2 linked regions of the Homo sapiens genome follow. The protein of the gene in region 1 purifies or fractionates together with the protein of each later gene. This does not show direct contact. Each region holds a gene or a part of one and is shown on either strand. Other genes may lie near its edges. The genes, in order: ZP3 and ZP2.

What was found.
Region 2: the proteins of ZP3 (region 1) and ZP2 purify together in Homo sapiens (co-immunoprecipitation; 2 studies listed by IntAct). This does not show direct contact.

The regions. Positions count from the first base shown.
Region 1 is NC_000007.14:76,426,147-76,435,956, reverse strand, and holds part of ZP3 (zona pellucida sperm-binding protein 3 isoform 1 precursor), read right to left. Parts: intron 6,443-9,810; coding exon 6,324-6,442; intron 3,031-6,323; coding exon 2,927-3,030; intron 2,488-2,926; coding exon 2,310-2,487; intron 1,920-2,309; coding exon 1,802-1,919; intron 1-1,801. UniProt on the Homo sapiens protein: Component of the zona pellucida, an extracellular matrix surrounding oocytes which mediates sperm binding, induction of the acrosome reaction and prevents post-fertilization polyspermy.
Region 2 is NC_000016.10:21,201,575-21,211,384, forward strand, and holds part of ZP2 (zona pellucida sperm-binding protein 2 isoform 1 preproprotein), read right to left. Parts: coding exon 9,733-9,810; intron 8,619-9,732; coding exon 8,535-8,618; intron 8,152-8,534; coding exon 8,057-8,151; intron 5,417-8,056; coding exon 5,264-5,416; intron 4,202-5,263; coding exon 4,157-4,201; intron 4,011-4,156; coding exon 3,846-4,010; intron 2,831-3,845; coding exon 2,734-2,830; intron 2,638-2,733; coding exon 2,456-2,637; intron 1,678-2,455; coding exon 1,551-1,677; intron 718-1,550; coding exon 530-717; intron 450-529; coding exon 358-449; intron 257-357; coding exon 132-256; intron 1-131. UniProt on the Homo sapiens protein: Component of the zona pellucida, an extracellular matrix surrounding oocytes which mediates sperm binding, induction of the acrosome reaction and prevents post-fertilization polyspermy.

The sequences.
Region 1 (9,810 bases):
GTCAAGAGTTCAAGACCAGCCTGGCCAAAATGATGAATCCCTGTCTCTACTAAGAAATACAAGGATTAGCCGGGCATGGTGGCAGGCGCCTACAATCCCAGCTACTCAGGAGGCTGAGGCAGAATTGCTTGCACCCGGAGGCAGAGGTTGCAGTGAGCCAAGACCGCACCATTGCATTCCAGCTTGGGTGACAGAGTGAGACTGTCTCAAAAAAAAAAAAAAAATGCTGGTGGTAGAACCTAGATGGTGTGCACACTGAAGTTCATGGAGTTTTACAGCAAACACCTATGAAGATTTAGTTAATGTTACAAAATGTGACACCATGCCCTACCCCAATAGAGTGAAGGTATGAGACTCTCTACAATCAGTATTTTTACAACCTCTCCAGATGATTAGTATAGAGCCAGCACTGGAAACCCCTACTTTAATCACTTCCTAACCACCTATTCTAAGCTCACCGCCTCACCTCTCATCTCAGTGAGCTTGTTTAAAAGCTACTTGAGGCTGGGCATGGTGGCTCACGCCTGTAATTCCAGCACTTTGGGAGACCGAGGCAGGCGGATCACCTGAGGTCAGGAGTTTGGGACCAGCCTGGACAACATGGTAAAACCTTGTCTCTACTAGAAATACAAAAAAATTAGCCAGGCATGGTGGCGGGTACCTGTACTCCCAGCTACTTGGGAGACTGAGGCAGGAGAATCACTTGCACCTGGGAACCTGGAGTGGCTGGGACTACAGGTGCCCACCATCATGCCCAGCTAATTTTTTGTATTTTTAGTAGAGGGGGTTTCACCGTGTTAACCAGGATGGTCTCAATCTCCTGACCTCGTGATCTGCCCGCCTCAGCCTCCCAAAGTGCTGGGATTATGGGCACGAGCCACCGCACCAGGCAATTTACTTCTAACCACTTACCAGTACTTCCCGGCTAGATGTTGGTCCTTGCACCTGCACTTCCTACTGCATCCCTCCCCCACCTCAGCCATTAGGCAGTTCCCATCTTCATTCCTTCCTTCTCCTTCCCTCTTAGTGTCAATTTGAGTTTTCTAGTTTAGGTTCTCAAGGGGAGGACCCAGACTGGCAGAACCAACACTTAAGAATGCAGATTCTAGGCTTCACTAGACCACCTGAATCAAACCCTGGGTTGGGGCCCAGTCATCAATTTCAACAAGCCCTCCAGCTGAGGATGATGCCTTCAGAATCACTAGCCTAACCTATGACCAAGTTCAAGAAGCCACCCTGGCTACGAAGTTCACACTGGTTTTCTTTGCCCCTGCAGAAAGCCTCCAGGAAGGCTAACACCTGCCTTTTTTTTTTTTTTTGGAGATGGAGTCTCACTGTCACTCAGGCTGGAGGTGCAGTGGCACAATCTCTGCTCACTGCAACCTCTGCCTCCCAGGTTCAAGCTATTCTCCTGCTTCAGCCTCCCAGGTAGCTGGGATTACAGGTACCCAACCACCACACTCAGCTAATTTTTTTTGTATATTTAGTAGAGTCGGGGTTTTACTATGTTGGCCAGGCTGGTCTTGAACTCCTGACCTCAAGTGATCCACCCCCCTCGGCCTCCCAAAGTATTGGGATTACAAGCATGAGCCACCGTGCCCGGCCTCTACCTCTTAAGGCTTCATATTGTTCATCCTTCTGCTTGAAGGCCTCGCTAAAGCTCATGGCTTTACTTGTAAGTTTGAGTTACTGGGACACAGCTCTAAGTCATTTGCTTAGGGGTGGAGCTAGTGAGTGACCCCATTCAGTAGGATATGAAGGTTGCAAGTTCAGCCTTCTTTCAGGCTGTTAAAGCTCTTACCATGTTTCTGGAGTCATTAGCAAAGTGGAAGACATCCACTGTGAACTGGAGTGTATCTGGCCCGGGTCGAGGAACTTTGAATGCAGAAGAGGCATCAGTGAGACCGTCGACAAGACAGCTTGGAAGAAAACAGAACGGTATTAAAGCCAGACAGGTGGGCCGGGCACCGTGGCTCACGCCCATAATCCCAGCACTTTGGGAGGCCAAGGTGGGTGGATCACTTGAGGTCAGGAGTTCGAGACTAGCCTGGCAAACATGGTGAAACCTTGTCTCTACTAAAAATACAAAAATTAGCCAGGCATGGTGATGGGCACCTGTAATCTCAGCTACTTGGGGGGCTGAGGCAGGAGAATCACTTAAACCTGGGAGGCAGAGGTTGCAGAGGGCAGAGATCAAGCCTCTGTATTCCAGCCTGGGTTACAGAGTGACACTGTCTCAAAAAGCCAAACAGGTGGCTTTAGGGTCATTTTGCTAGGAAGGTTCTCTAGGCAGGGAGCCCAGTGCTCACCCATGGAAGTCCACGATGGTGTGATAAGGGGAGGCATTCTGGTCTGGTGTCGGTGTGGCCACGCAGTGGTCCACAAACAACCGCAGTGGCACGTGGCTGCCAGTGTGGATTTCTGCCTGGAGGTGGGCTGCATCTCCCAGGTGGAAGGTGGGGGACCTCTTCTCAGCGTTCCAGTTCTCTGAAAGACACAGTCAGCTGGGCATGGTGGCTCATGCCTGTAATCCCAGCACCTTGGGAGGCTGAGGCAGGTGGATCACCTGAGGTCAGGAGTTCGAGACCAGCCTAGCCAACGTGGCAAAACCCCATCTCTACTAAAAATAGAAAAGTTAGCTGGGTGTGGTGTCAGAAGCCTGTAGTCCCAGTTACTCGGGAGGCTGAGGCAGGAGAATCGTTTGAACCCCAGGAGGTGGAGACTGCAGTGAGCTGAGATCGTGCCACTGCACTCCAGCCTGGAGGTCAGATCAAGACTGTCTCAAAAACCAACCAAAACCAACCAAAACCAACCAAAACCAACCAAAACCAAAACCAAACAAACAAAAAAAAGACACAGCCAAGGGCAGGGGTCTGAGATGGCCCAGGTCTTTCCACAGATGTCCCACCCAGCCTTCTTCTCTTACCCTCCATCAGACGCAGAGAGAAAGTCAGCTTCTCCTCTGAGAACACCGTGGTCCTGAAGGGCAACCAGGTGGGCAGGATGGCCTGGCTGCTCACATTGCCCTGCCTGAGAGAAGAACAGCAGCTGTGCACACCTGCCTCAGGTCACACCCACCTGGGCCCCCACTGATGGGGAGTATCTCACTGCTACCCCACTACAGGGTCCTCAGCTATGGCCCAGCCAGGTAGCTGGTGCGAGATGGCTGAACAGACACCTTGAGCCTGAGGCTGCCCCTGCACCCTCCTGAACTTCTGCACCTGTGAGTGGCCTAGCCATCCTAACTGATGCTATGATGCTATCTGGGCCGCTGAAGACAGATACAGCTGAACCTAGGAGTTTGGTTTCTAGACTGAGATCTGCTCCCTCTTGAGCCCTGGACCTGAGTGCGGTGGCTCATGCCTGTAATCCCAGCACTTTGGGAGGTGGAGACTGGAGGATTGCCTGAGGCTAGGAGTTTGAGAGCAGCCTGGACAACATAGCAAGACTCTATCTCTATAAAAAAGAAAAGAGGCCAGGCACGGTGGCTCAAGCCTATAATCCCAGCAGTTTGAGAGGCCGAGGCGGGCGGATCATGAGGTCAGGAGATCGAGACCATCCTGGCTAACATGGTGAAACCCCATCTCCACTAAAAATAAAATTATCCGGGCATGGTGGCGGGCGCCTTTAGTCCCAGCTACTTGGGAGGCTGAGGCAGGAGAATGGCGTGAACCTCGGAGGTGGAGTTTGCAGTGAGCTGAGATCACACCACTGCACTCCAGCCTGGGCAACAGAGCAAGACTCCATCTCAAAAAAAAAAGAAAAGAAAAGAAAAGATAGCTGGGCATAGTAGTACATACCAGCTACTCAGGAGGCTGAGATGGGAGGATTGCTTGAGCCCAGGAGGTCAAGGCTGCAGTGAACTATGATGGCACCCCACTGCACTCCAGCCTGGGCGGCAGAGTAAGACTTTTTTTTTTTAAACAAAAAACCAAAAGCCACCACACATACTTTAGCCCTAGAGGTTCAGGTTTGGGGTCTGATAGCAGGCCCTGCACAGTACTCCACAGGATGCTTGAGAGGGGAATCAGCTAAGGCCATCTTTTTTTTTTTTTTTTGAGACGGAGTCTCACTTTGTCTCCCAGGCTGGAGTACAGTGGCACGATCTCGGCTCACTGCAAGCTCCACCACCCAGGTTCACGCCATTCTCCTGCCTCAGCCTCCCAAATAGCTGGGACTACAGGCACCCGCCACTAGGCCTGGCTAATTTTTTGTATTTTTAGTAGAGACGGGGTTTCACCACGTTAGCCAGGATGGTCTCCATCTCCTGACCTCATGATCCGCCCGCCTCGGCCTCCCAAAGTGCTGGGATTATAGGCGTGAGCCACCATGCCCAGCCAAGGCCATCCTTTAGAGATCAAAGACAGGCCCTTAGGTCTTGAGATGCTACCGAGAGCCTGGACCCACACCAGTGACTGGGAAGTCCATGGAAGCAGGTCTGGGTATCTGCAGATACCTACCCTGCTAACCCCATAGGATCTGCTGGAAGAAGCTACTCCAAGTGATGGATGCATCTATTGATAACCAGACTCAGGTATCTGGAGCCAGGTTAAAGCATCCCAGCCTACAACCAGCCTCTCTAATACTACCTACAGCCAATGGACCAGGTGAGCCACCATCCTCAGGGGTCAGGCCCAGAGACTGAAGTCAGACTTCCACGGTCACAGGACAGCTTCAGTCCCTCATGCCGACTGGGCAGCCTGCCCTTGACTCCTCTATCCTCCTCCATCTCCCCTACCCACATAGGCACCAAGCTCCTCCAACTGCTCTTAGCTCCTGCGAGTCAGCCTCTACGGTCCCTGCAACCATGGGTCAGGCCTCATTGAATCCCAGTTTTCCAGCCTCCCAGCTGGTTCTCACTAGTTCCCATTTGTCTTCAGCACCAGCCACCAGGTGACCCTGGGTGGAGATTCAGTCCTCACCCATTCCAGGAGGGGCACCTGTGGTGAGGCTGGTGAGCCCATCTGTCTGGCTCCCTCATTACCCCAGTCCCTGGGCTCCAGCCCCCAGGCTGCATGTCACCTACTAAGGGCACACTACCCTCCCGTTGGGTGTGTGGCCACATGGCTCTGCCCAGGCCATCTCAGCCTCAAGGTCCCCCACTCCAGGATCCTGTTCTAGGATAACCCCTACCATGACCCCTCCCAGGGGCATGGCTCATCCCTCATGATGTCCTGACTGGTATCAGCTCCCTACCCACTTCACACTAGCATTTTCTTTTTGAGATGGAGTCTTGCTCTGTTGCCCAGGCTGGAGTGCAATGGTGCCATCTCAGCTCACTGCAACCTCTGCATCCTGGGTTCAAATGATTCTCCTGCCTCAGCCTCCTGAGTAGCTGAGATTACAGGCACGCGCTACCACACTCGGCTAATTTTTTTGTGTTTTTAGTAGAGATGGGTTTCACCATGTTGGCCAGGCTGGTCCTGAACTCCTTACCTCGTGAGCTGCCCACCTTGGCCTCCCAAAGGGCTGGTATTACAGGCGTGAGCCACCATACCTGGCCGCATCATCTTATACCCACTCCCAGACTGGTTCAAGGGCAGGGACAAAGTCCCCTGCACCCCATGCTGAGGCCAGCACAGGACCCAGTGTTGTCCTTGGGAGCCATAGTTTCTCCTCCCACTTCAGGGCCTGAGTTCACAGGCACGTGCTTGATGCCAGGGGCTTGAGGACCACAGAAGAGTAGGCCACCACCGCCCAGGTCAGATTCTAGAACGCAGCCTAGCACTATTTTATTATTATTTTTTGCGATGGAGTATCGCTTTGTTGCCCAGAATGGAGTACAGCAGTGCAATCTCGGCTCACTGCAGCCTCTGCCTCCTGGGTTCAAGCAATTCTCCTGCCTCAGCCTCCCAAGTAGCTGGGATTATAGACACCCGGCTAATTTCTGTGTTTTTAGTAGAGATGGGGTTTCACCATGTAGGCCAGACTGGTCTTGAACTCCTTGACCTCAAGCGATCCACCTGTCAGCCTCCCAAAGTGCTAGGATTACAGGATGAGCCACTGCACCTGGCCCCAGCCTAGCACTATTGGAAGGCCATTTCTGAACCCTAAGGGCCGAGGCTGGCATAGTACCACCACCAGGGCTGAGCAGCTCTGAAGCTTCCGCTAAGCTGCAGTTGGGCTCCTGATACTCTTCTGGGGCTCGAACTAGACTCAGCAGGCCCCACAATCCCACGCAGTACAGTAACCACAGCTGCAAATGCTTCGGTAGGTAGTTCTAATAGCCATGCTGCAAGCTGTAGCCCATAGCCAGCCCACTTGCCTGCAGCCACACCCAAGGGGCTTTTGCACCAGGGGCCATGAGTCAGTCCCACACCGACCTGGGGTAGCGGCACTCGATGGGAATCTCTGCGCGGTTAGTCCTCACGATGGACAGGTTTCCCACGGGGCGGGGGTCATGGAGCAGGAAGGTGCTGTACACCAGGGCATCGTCAGTTACCTGGAGGAAAGGTGAGAAGTTAATGCTGCCGGCCATCACCTGCCCGGGTACTCCCAAGCCATACCTGAGTGCTCAGGGAGGGCAGCCCACAAGGGGACAGAAAGACCACAGGGTCAAGGCCAGGTGCAGTGACTCATGCCTGTAACCCCAGCACTTTGGGAGGCCAAGGATTGCTTGAGGCCAGGAGTTTGAGACTGGCCTGGGAAACATAGCAAGACCCCATCTCTACAAAAGAGAACACAGGCTCTGCCACTGGTCAGGAAAGAGGCAGGACAGGTACTGTCTTTGTACCTCGGAATCTTTACCTGACACCACATATTGACACCACCACAGGCAGACTGGATCAACCACATGGCAGATACCATGTAACACCCAAGCAATAGAGGCATCAGGGCACATGACACATCCCTTCTGACACTCCCCCTCCATGCCCCCCAGTACATACAGTTTCCTCTTTCAGGAGAGGCCCAGGGCCAAGATAGCCGCCAGGAAGCAGTCAGGAAGTGCCCAGCTGTTAACACTTATCAGCTTCTGGCTGGGCGCTGTGGCTCACGCCCGTAATCCCAGCACTTTGGGAGGCTGAGGAGGGCAGATCATCTGAGGTCAGGAGTTTGAGACCAGCCTGACCAACATGGTGAAACCCCATCTCTACTTAAAAAAAAAAAATTAGCTGAGTGTGGTGGCACGTGCCTGTAATCCCAGCTACTCGGGAGACTGAGGCAGAAGAATCGCTTGAACCCGGGAGGCAGAGGTTGCAGTGAGCGGAGATCGTGCCATTGCATTCTAGCCTGGGCAACAAGAGCAAAACTCTCAAAAACAAAAACAAACAAAAAACACAACAACCCACATCAGCTTCTAACCTATTCAAGCCCATTTCACATAAGGTGGGGGAGACTGATTCAGAGGTTGCCTGAGGCAGGAAGAGCACAGGTGAGTACTACTGGGGAAATTTGCATCGTCCAATAGGGCTGCAGAAGGCAGGGCCTGCCTGGGAGAGAGTTTTATAGCAAACACCTAAGTTCGAAGATTTTGCTAGAATATTAGAAAAATGTGACGCTAGGCCCTACCCCAGTAGAGTGAAGGTATGAGATTCTCTTGAGAATCAGTATTTTTACAACCTTTCCAGGTGATTAGCATAGAGCCAGCACTGGAAACCCCTACTTTAGTCACTTCCTAACCACCTTTTGTTTTTTTGAGATGCAGTCTTGCTCTGTCACCCAGGCTGGAGTGCAGTGGCACGAACTCGGCTCACTGCAACCTCCGCCTCCCAGGTTCAAGCAATTCTCTGCTTCAGCCTCTGAGTAGCTGGAATTACAGGCACGTGCCACCGTGCCTTTTTTTTTTTTTTTTAAATAGAGACAGGGTTTCGCCATGTTAGCCAGGCTGGTCTCGAACTCCTGGCCTCAGGTGATCCACCTGCCTCAGCCTCCCAAAGTGCTGGATTACAGGTGTGAGCCACCATGACTCAACCCCCAACCACCTATTCTAAGCTCACTATCCCCACCTCTCATCTCAGGGAGCTTATTTAAAAACTACTTGAGGGCTGGGTGCAGTGGCTCATGCCTGTAATCCCAGCACTTTGGGAGGGAAGAGGATTGCTTGAGGCCAGGAAGTCACGACCAGCCTGGGCAATAGAGCTAGACCCCATCTCTACAAAAACATAACTTGGCTGGGCACGGTGGCATGTGCCTGTAGTCCATCCCAGCTATTCAGGAGGCTGAGGCAGGAGGATGGCTTGAGCCTAGGAGGTCGAAGTTGCCCAAGAGCTCAGGTGGCTGCCTGGCCCTGACCAAACTCGATCTTCAGGGAATAGTCCTAGACCTTATTAGCAAGTGCCCCAGCACAGACAGAACCAGCATAGCTCGTGGGGCCCCTTATTCAAAAGTTATTACCATTTCAGGGCAAGAGGGCATTCCATTAAGCACTGGGCCCCACAGAACTGCACAGGTTGTATACCTGGGAAACTGGCCATGGCTGTATTTTTTTTTTTTTTTTTTTTGAGACGGAGTCTCACTCTGTTGCCCAGGCTGGAGTGCAGTGGCACGATCTCAACTCACTGCAACCTACGCCTCCCGGGTTCAAGCAATTCTCTGCCTCAGACTCCTGAGTAGCTGGGATTACAGGTGCCCGCCACCACACCCGGCTAACTTCTTTGTATTTTTAGTAGAGATGAGGTTTCACCATCGTGGCCAGGCTGGTCTTGAACTCCTGACCTCGTGATTCACCCGCCTCGGCCTCCCAAAGTGCTGGGATTACAGGCGTGAGCCACTGCGCACGGCCAGCCGCAGGTGATTCTCACCGGGCAAAACTGGGAAACACCACACCAGAGGAAGGAGTTTGCAGGCTTTGCTCCTCATTGGAGTCACCTGAGATCCTTATTACCCACAGCTGGTCCCACATCCTTTCTATTTTAGCAGCCTGGACATCAGGATTTTTAGAAGCTCCACAGGTGGGGTTAATAAAAGAGGGTCTTGCTCTGCCTTCCAGGCTGGAATGCAGTGGCACAATCGTAGCTCACTGCAGCCTCCAAATCATGGGTTTAAGCAATCCTCCCACTTCAGCCTCCCAAGTAGCTGAGACTAAAGGCAGGCGCCACCACACCCTATTGTGTGTGTGTGTGTGTGTGTGTGTGTGTGTGTGGTGTTTGGTAGAGAAGGGGGTCTCATTATGTTGCCCAGGGTGGCCTTAAACTCCCGGGCCCAAGTGATCCTCCCATCTCAGCCTCCCAAAGTGCTGGGATTATAGGCGCCATTGCACTCCAGCCTGGGCAATAAGAGCAAAACTGTCTCAAAAAACAAAAACAACAACAAAAAAATACCACTTATCAGCTTCTAACCTATTAAAGCCCATTTCACAGAAGGGGGGGGAGCCAGGCACCTGGCTCCCCAAGTAAATCTAAGACATGTTTGTGAGCCTCTAAACTGGAATAATTCCTCAAGTAACTCCTGCAGCTCTCTGGCCTCCCTCCCCAGGAAAACAAGGGCCTCGAGTCCTCAAAGAGAGCCCAGGAGACCACAGTTAAGACCAGAGCTCTGGCCGGAGGGCTCCAGGGGCTGGACTTGCCCCCATCCCAGGCAAGCTACTGGGTCTAGGCCCAGGTGAGGAGGAGCCAGGTTCCCCTGAGGCGGGAGAGGACAGGCCCTCCATGGGACCACAGGAACTTGGTCCAGGGATCAGGGTTTAGCTGGGGAGCTGTGTGCCCAGCCCTGCCCTGCCGTAAGGCCTCTCCTTGCAGCCTCTTTCCCCACTGGCTAGGGAAAGGGAGGTCTGGCCTGGATTTCTTGGTCTTTTCCTGCATGTACCACAGGTTAAGCCTCTCCCCCTTGGAGCTGCCCCCAGGGACCCACTGATGCTTTTAAGGTCTTTAA
Region 2 (9,810 bases), on another chromosome or scaffold:
TTCAAGTAGTTAATGGCTGCAACACAGATTCATAGGTCATCACTGCTCCATTAGTCTGGCAGTATCAGGATGTTCATTTTAGGGAGAAGTTTGAGATCATTTAAGCAATTTCACAGACTGCAATCTCTTACCTGGGTAGCTTTGCAGGATCAAGGTAAATGGACCCAACTTCACTGAGGCCACTGGAGGAGTAAGGCTTTCAACGTTGATGTTTAGTAGCATGTCATTCCTGCTATAAGAACACTTCACTGTCATTCTGTAAGAGTTTGGAGGGAAGGTAGGTACAGAAAATTTCAGGTTAAAAAATTGCTTGAGTTTAAACTAGAGCTTAAGAGTCAAATAGCAATTTTATCTCACCTGAACTCACTGTCTCTAGATATTTTGCTTGGAGGAAAATCCGTCCAGAGAGCATGTATTTCGTTTTCATAGACGACTTTATCATCTTCGAACTTAAATGTCAGAGAAAGTGGGTTAGCAGCCAGTTATGTCAAAGATGAGACTTAACCTCGTGCCATCTGCCAGTACTAACCTTATATCTCGTTCCACATCCATTCAGGGGTATGTGGAACCGTACCAGCCCCTGAGACTGAGCCTCAAAGACAGGCTGGCAGGATGAGTTTCCCACCCTCAGAGTACCCAGGTCAAGAGCTGGTTGTGTTTGGTAGCTGTAGACCTCGACGTCCATAAACCCATCCTGGGTGCACAGCTCCCCTGTAACTAGACAGCGGTGAAAGTTTAGAGAAAATAAGTTTGTCTGCCCTGTGATACTGTCATCTCCCAACCTGATATGCTACGAGGGAGAAATTCTAATTTAGCAGGAGGCATCAGAATCTGTCTTGAAGTCTTTATGAGGGAACCTTGATCAGCAGCTTGAATTACAAAGGGAGCTGAAGTTAGTTGATTGTTCTATGTGAGAGTAGGACTTTTCATCCAAAGGAGGGACCAGTAGATGTAGGAAGAAGTGCTATATGGTATAAGACCAGTGAGAATCCTGATGAAGGGCAGGAGTTGACTCAAGGTTAAACTTAATGTGGCTTTAAGTACAGCGCCTATGTTATTGTATCCTTTCTTTGTATACTCACAAATCCTGAGTAGTTTGGGGAGAAACTGAGGCAGGAGCTGGTTTTCCTATTTGATCTGACCTGTGCAGATCACATTAAACAGAAGCACATGGTGGAGGCAATGCTAAACAAGAGATATTCACTCTATTTAAGAATTTGTAGGAATTTTGGGGTGGGGGGGTACTTAAACTTAATTCTAATTAGAAGTTTGAATATTCTTACCTAGATGTCAGGTTCAGGCTCCTAAGCCAAAATATCTAGATTGTTTAACCATGGAGCAGTTGCCATAAAACCTACCTATGTAGGGATCTTAAAAATATCATACTTAGGACCCCATCGTAGCAGCTACACTGTTTCTAATCTGACTAGTCTTTAGTTTCTTCAGTCTATAAGCAATAGATCAGAATCTGACCTTCTATACATTTGCCCACATGTACAAGAGCCAAGGGAGAAAAAAGGTAGAACATGATTTTAATAAAAGGTCTTTACCTATAGAAACGGGTGACTCACAGAGACACTCAGGATAGATCACCATGGATACTGTCTCTGGCCGAAGGAGAAAGGTCAGCTTGAGTGAAGCTAAGTAGAACTGATGGAGTAGGCATTTTTCAGATAACTGAAATGAGAAAATGTCAATTAGCAGCCACAGTCCGTTGGGGCCCGGAACCGTCACAGGGAGGCAGGAAGCAAGTCCACTAAATACTTGCAGGACACACTCCAGACTTATCTGGGCTCCCTTTAAACCAAAACAAGAGAGACCCTATCACTTCCTCAGATCTGGATGTATCCCCAGGCAGATTTATTGCTTTAAACTCATGCCCTGGAGTACCCAGCACTGTACTCTTTGTACGAGGCACTAAAGCTTGAATTAGCAGATCAAATTCCAAAGAATAGTGGAATCCTCTGCCAAGCCAGGTCTGAGTCAAAAGGACTCTACAGATGTTATAAAATGGTATTGCATAATATGTACCCCCAACCTAAGATTATTCTCTGGTATCCCTGGCAGTTCTAGTGAAGACTAACCTCAACAGCAACAGTACGGGACCCTTTTGTTTAGATCAAGGTGTCCTGTTCGTTGACCAGGACAGATTCATCATTAGGTATTTGACAAGTAGTTGCTACTACTCAGTTGGGGCCTTAGACAGTTTTAAGACTTAGAAAGACTTAGACGATTTTTCATGACAGAAGTTAAAGAGGTTTTGTGTTAGAGAATGAACTTTAGTTACTTGATATTTCACTTATACAAGATGATCAAATGAGGCCTTTTGGAGTTTGAATCTGTTATGTTGGCAATTAGAGCTCACGGGCAAGTTATCAGCCGTATGAGGACTACCCACAAGAGTATACTTCAAGTCAGGACCCGGTGGAGTTCAGTGGTTGACAATTGAACATACTTTCGTTTTGAGCAGAGTTTTGCTGAAATGCAATTTCATGCCATTTGTTGCTTCTAGATCAATTCCATTGTCATGCAGCTGGCTCACATCAATGTTCTGGTTTTCAAAGCTCACAGACTTAAGCTTCCCAGGAAACTCTGGTATGGTGAGAGTCATGTGTGTGGCATTGCAGGTCACAGGATCTAGAAGGAATGACAACAGAATGCCCATTACCAGCCTTGATTAAGCTTCTAGGACAATGTCTCCCACACTGAGGTTGCAGCTATCTGGGACCTTACCTGGTGCACAAATAGCTTGTGAAGAGAAGATCACCTTCTGTCCAGGAGATATAAATGTAAGCTTCAGAGACACCATGTAGAGATGACTGTTACCTTGCTAGGGGGAGAAATAACAGTGATCTTCAAAAACATTGGTTACTTGAATCTCTAACCAGTAAGAATCATCTTGGCAAGTATATATCCAAGTAATGGGCACTACTTTGACACAAGTAGGATTTAAGCATTTGTCTAATGACTAATTTGTCTAATCTGGAGGTATATTAGTTTTAACCTTGTTCTAACATCTGGAAGAATGTTGTCTAGATCACCTGTAGCCAATGACTTCTAGGCAGATAAGATCTGTCCTTACCCCATATGACTATTTTAAAGTATCAGCAGCCAGACAATGTTTTCAAGCCTCAATCCATTTGTGTTCTTACTGGGAGATAGGACTGTTCTTGAAGTGGTTGGCATTTGAGCACTTACATCTCAGGACCTGTCCTAAGTACTTTAGGAGATTAATTCATTTAGTGCAGTGTTCAGACTATTGGCCTGGAAAGCACCAATACTTGCTATAAAACAATATAGGACAATGACAACCCAAACAGAACCCCTTAACCCATAAAGCTTTCAGGAATATGCTTGTTCTGTGTTGTACTATAGATTTAAGACTATGGGAAAGAGACTAGATTGAGGTAAGGATTATGTATTTTTGAGAAATGGTCTCGCTCTGTCGCCCAGGCTGGAGTGCAGTGGTACAATCTCGGCTCACTGCAACTTCTACCTCCTGGGTTCAAGCGATTCTCCCACCTCAGCCTCCTGAGTAGTTGGGATTATAGGCATGTACCATCTCACCCAGTTAAGTTTTTGTGTTTTTAGTAGAGACAGGGTTTCACTAAACAGACAGGGTTGGCCGGGCTGGTCTTGAACTCCTGACCTCAAGCGATCTGCCCGCTTCAGCCTTCCAAAGTGCTGGGATTACAGGTGTGAATACCCAGCGAAGTGTTTGGCACTTAATAGGCATTAAAATGGGTTGTATTATAAATTAATGTGAAGACATGGTTGAGATCATGCTTCAATTTAGGAATACTGGCCTGTGCTTTGGTGGTACAAAGCCAGACTTCCACACCTACCACATAGTGAGTCACTCCAGTGGCATTGAATGGCACATGGAAGGTCATCCTGTGGTTGTCAATCAAGAGGCTGAAGCCTTCCTTCATGGCCTCTGGCAGGGTCAGAGTTTTGGCTCTTGCACCATCACCAACCTCAATGCTCCATCCCATCTGAACTTTGGTCCCCTGAAGTCAAAAAGCTTTGTTTAGAGGGCTGGTGCTCCCTTAACCAAGTCTCTGGTAGTCTAACAATTTATCAGGTTAAAGGTAATATCACCTTTAACATAGAATTAAAGGTTATTAAGGTCTGATTTTTAAAATTTGCTTCATACCTTACTGTCGTCAGCCAAGCCAGAGAAGACCCGTGGCAAGGAAAACTGGAAGAAAAGAATTGTGATGTAAGACTTTGATTTGGAGGTAGATGTTTCCGAATTCATGCCAGAAATTGCTGTGTGGTTGTCATACCAAAAGGCCTGCTGTGGGATGCAGTGGAAGAAGCACATGAACCCTGACTGTGCCCTTAGATGTCATTATACTTCTTTGAACTTCTGATCCCAAGAGGCAGCTGGAAGATCTAAGCTCCTTTCCAGTTGTAAGTTGGGACACATTTCTCCCCCCAAGATAGAGTTTCGCTCATCGCCCAGGCTGGAGTGCAATGGTGCAATCTCGGCTCCCTGCAACCTCCGTCTCCTGGGTTCAAGCGATTCTCCTGCCCCAGCCTCCCAAGTAGCTGGGATTACAGGAATGTACTACCATACCCGGCTAGTTTTTTGTATTTAGTAGAGATGGGTTTTCACCATGTTGGTCAGGCTGGTCTCAAACTCCTGACCTCAGGTGATCCACCTACCTCAGCCTCCCAAATTGCTGGGATTACAGGCATGAGCCACCATGCCTGACCAGGACAATGTTCTTAAACGTTTGCCCTTTCACCAATGTCCATAGAAATCAGGTACTATGTAAAAGCCATGCAGTTCTATCATTGTTATTGAGTTGCTTTTATGTCAGTGTTATTTTTAGTTGTCCATTGTTGACATTAGCCATGTTAGACTCTAAACCCATGAAGATGTGACTGGGTCGTTTTGTTCACTTATTGTATCTTAGCATCTAGGGTAGGGCCTGGAACATGGCATGTATTCCATTTGTCAGATGATTAGTGTGAGTGCAACTACCAATAAAACCCTATTGCCATGCATGATGTGCCAAGTACCATGTATATACCCTCAGTAAATTCTTAGAGCCACCCTGAGGTAAGCATTATTGTCCCATCACTTTGGACTTGGAAACAAAGCCTCAGGGTAAAGTTAAACCTCATCACACAGAAAATTAGCAAGTACAGGATTAAATCATGGTCTGATTTCTAAGCCCCGCCCTGGTTAGATCATCATCATATTCCCCCTGCAGTAGCCATATACCCCGAGCAGTCAGCCCGTTTCACTCACAGACATGAAATCCTTCTGGCAGATTGTAGATGCTGAAAGCCCCTGGGTCTCTTCTACTTGCATAGCTGGACAGAAGAACTGATACATGACAGCTCCGTGTCTTAAGGCAGCACTGTTGTTCATGACTCTGATGGTCATCTGGTGTCCACCATGCTGTGTACAGATAGCACAGTGGGAACAGAGTAAGTACTGTACCCCCATGGGATTCTAGAATACCATCTGACCCATCTGAGTGGGAAAACCCTTAAAGTTACTAATACCACAAGTGCTGGAAGGTACCTCATTCCCGTACCAGGAGACTAGCTAGCCCATTGTAATCTGTTAGTGAAGACTCATGCTGATAGGCCAGTTTTAGCATCAGGAAATGGAGTTCAGTTTCTATTTCTCTTATGTGTACCCTATGTCTCAGTACCATGGTCCTGGCTGAATGGGGTTGGTATGGGGCTTCTACCCAGGTTATCTGAATACTTGTTAAGCACCTAAGTAGCTGCCATTGTGCTGGGTAGAGCTACCCTTGCTATTACCCCTGACCTTAGGAAACTCAGTCTAAAAGCAGGGGTCAGCCAACCTTTTTCCATTATGCATTAGCAACTGTTTTAGACTCATGTGAGCCACATGAAATCCATAGCATATTTCCTTAAAAGAACTTTAAAAAGATAAAAGCCAGCTGGGCATGGTGGCTCATTGCCTGTAACTCCAGCACTTTGGGAGGCTGAGGCAGACTGACTGCTTGAGCTCAGGAGTTCAAGACCAGCCTGTGCAACATGGTGAGAGACTCCATCTCTATATATATATTAAACACACACACACACACACACACACACACACACACACACACACACACCACAAAAGTTAGCTGGGTGTGGTGGTATATGCCTGTGGTCTCAGCTACTGGGCAGGCTGAGGTGGTACTGAGACATAGGGTAGGGGATTGCTTGAGTCCGGGAGGTAGAGGTTGCAGTGAGCCGAGATTATGCCACTGCATGCCAGCCTGGACAACAGCAAGACCCTGTCTCAAGAAGATTAAGAAGATAAAACCCATTCTTAGTTTGAAAACCAAACCAAAACAAAAACAAACAAAAACACAAAAAAAACCCATGAACTAGGCACAGTGGTTCATGCCTATAATCCCAGTGCTTTGGAAGGCTGAGGTGGGAGGATCCCTTGAGGCCAGAAGTTTGAGGCCAGCCTGGACAACATGGTGAAATCCCCATTTTGACAAGACAAAGATTAGACAGGCATAGTGTTGCATGCCTGTAGCCCCAACTAGTTGGGAGGCTGAGACGGGAGAATCCCTTGAGCCCAGCAGTTCTAGGCTGCAGTGAGCCATGATTGCAGCCACTACTTTCCAGCCTGGGCTACAGAGCAAGCCTGCCTCAGAAAGAGACCATGGACTGCGTTTGGCCATCCACAGGTTATGGCTTGCAGACCCTTAGTCTAAGGGAATGCGACTCCAAGACCTCTAATGTTGAGAAGGTCTGTTTTAGAAGGAAATTATCAGGTTTTTCATGAAGGACCTATGATTACTTCATTGATTGATCACAGAGGGCTTTAGGGGACCAGATGACTTACAGTTCAAGCCTGTTTACAGAGTAGGGTCTAAGACTGTATCTGTACAAAGCTTAGACTGCTGACCACCTGCATCGTAATCAGATGGTATAGACTGTTAGATATGCAGATTCCCAGAACTCACCCCAGGCCTATGTCCAACTAGTCAAACCCAAACTTTCCAAATTACAACTTGCTAGCTTCTGCTTAGACAGGTTGCTTTTATTGCTCCTAATATTCCTGATTGGGCAATACTGTTGCTTGGCAATAGAAAAACCCTTACTGCTTAGCTGCTGTTTGCCTTTTAACACCTGTTTCTATAGGTCAGATTTCTATTTGCTAGCACCAAAATAGCCTTCCATCTCATGTTGGGGTTCACAGATCAAAATAGCTCGTGTTTCATCACTTGTTGTATCCAGGTTCTGCACCAGGTCTTAATCTGTAGAACATCATTAGTCTTCATTACCCCCATGGAGCAGGCACCATTACTCTCATCTTCTAATGGGCAAACAGGCTTGAAAGGGCTCACTTGGTGGAAATTACACCTGATTAGTGGTAGAGCCAGGGCTCAAGGGCTCAAGTACTTGAATGCCAGGGTTTCTCATCCTCAACACTGACATCTCAGTCCTGGTAATTCTGTGTTATGGGGAGGAGACTTGGGTAATGTTGGTTGTCTGCCAGCATCTTTGGCTTGTATCCATTAGATGCCAGTAGTAGCTCTTCTACCTTCAGTTGTGATAACCAAAGATGTTTCTAGATGTTGTCAAATGTCCCCTGGACAGATTCCCCCCACCCTCCTCCAGACAGTTTTGCTCTTGTTGCCCAGGCTGGAGGGCAATGGAGCAATCTCAGCTCACTGCAAACCTCTGTCCCCTGGGTTTAAGCGATTCTCCTGCCTCAGCCTCACAAGTAGCTGGGATTACAGGTGTGTGCTACCACACCCAGCTAGTTTTTTGTATTTTTAGTAGGGATGGGGTTTCACCATGTTGGCCAGGCTGGTCTCAAACTTCTGACCTCAGGTGATCCACCCGTCTCAGCCTCCTAAAGTGCAGAGATTATAGGCGTGAGCCATCACACCTGGCCTAGACAGATTATAATAGAAAAGAAGAGCCACACACGAGACACCACCCCCTTGGTTGAGAGCCACTGCTTTACTCCAAAGAGAAAGTTCTTAGCCAAGTTTACTGCCAGTAACTCTTAGGTTACTACGTACTTCCCCAAGAACTGCTCAAAGCAATGACTTACCACTCTCCTGGTACAGTTATCATAGGTAGCCCTCAGGGTGAGCTTTTCTGGGTCCAGGATGTAAGTGCAGTTCGGCATGTCGAGACCAAGAGGATCTGCCAAGGCCAGAGCAGGTTAGACAGGATGGCTGAGTACATTTCAGTGACAGTCCAAAGCTATAGAGTCAAGACCACCAGTCCATTTCTAAGGTACTTCAGTCCCTTCACTTCCGCCCCAACTCAGTGATAGAACTTGAGCTTTGAGATGGTATGACTTGCAGCCAGAGGCTTCCCAGAGATGCTGGCATAAGACACACTTTCGAAGACAGACAGGTCTTCCATGCTGGGTGGCTTCATGCAAATCAGGTATCCCCATGGCATCATGGGAGTTGGATGCCGTTGCTGCAGGAGTTTGGGTACTCTGCTCCCCAAACAGGATTGACCTAAGCCAAAGGCTGTCTGCTAATCAGGACTATGAGGAGATAACACACGTTACCTACCCACCACAGATGCATGCCATTTCTTGGTGCCAGGACTGCTTGGGAACTCCACTGTTATTTCCCTTTCATCGCAAGTGACAGTGCCTAAGGAGCAAAGGAAGCATTTGGGGGCTTTGAGTCATGAGTGATGCAACTCCTACAAAAGTGTATAGACTCCTCTCAGATGGGAGGGATTCCAGATGAGGGAGGCAAGAATCGTCCCCTACCCTGGGAGAGCTCACAAACAAGTGACCAAGACAACAATACAATATGCCAAGAACTGTAAGGAAAATATCAGGTACCCAGGGCTTTTGAAGTGTTCCAGTAAGAAGCCCAGGTTAGGGTTGACAAGCAGGTCTGTAGGAGCCAGGTCAACACCTTGACAGTGGAGCAGATGGAGGCAGGCCCGAAAAACTGACAAAAGCTTTGTCAACAGGTTTTGCAAATTGATGTTAAACAAAGTCCTGGGTAAGTCCCAGGACTTTTATTTATTTATTTATTTATTTTGAGACGGAGTCTCTCTGTCACCCAGGCTGGAGTGCAGTGGCACGATCTCAACCCACCTCAACCTCCGCCTCCCAGGTTCAAGCGATTCTCCTGCCTCAGCCTCCCAAGTAGCTGGGATTACATGTGCCCACCACCACACCCAGCTAGTTTTTGTATTTTTGGTAGAGATGGGGTTTCACCACATTGGCCAGGCTGGTCTCAAACTCCTGAGCTCAGGTGATCTGCCCGCCTTGGCTTCCCAAAGTTCTGGGATTACAGGCGTGAGCCCCGGCGCCTGGCTGCATTTTTTTTTTTTTTTTTAAAGATCAAGTTTTGCCCATCATCTGCTACTCTGCAGCCTCTGGCTCAGGTGAACGTCAAGTGAGCAGCTCCAGTTTTGCTTGTTATGTCGATGTTTTCCTTAAGCATGAGTTTGTGTTTGAAGATTGCTGCTCCTAAAGATGAGGGCTTAGTGTGGTGGTTTGCTGTTCTGTGGATACCATAAAGCTTGAGGCAGTGAGGGATTGGAAGGCAGTGCAAGTGTTTGAGTTTTCATTTAGCAGGTATAGTGAGTCTACAGGTTAGCAGAAGAAAGATCCAGTAACCTGACCAAGGTAATAAAGGGGGTGAATGGAGGTTGTCTGAGCCAGGCCTGTGTTTCTTGGCCAGCTAGGCCTTCCAGCTGCAACCTGTTTTCTCTGCTAAGAAGACTTCTGTCACCCAAGAGACATACCTGGAAAGGCAGGATTTACCAACTGAGAAACATCTATGGAGTTCCCTGAAGTCACAAGGGCGAAGAAGAGAGAAATCG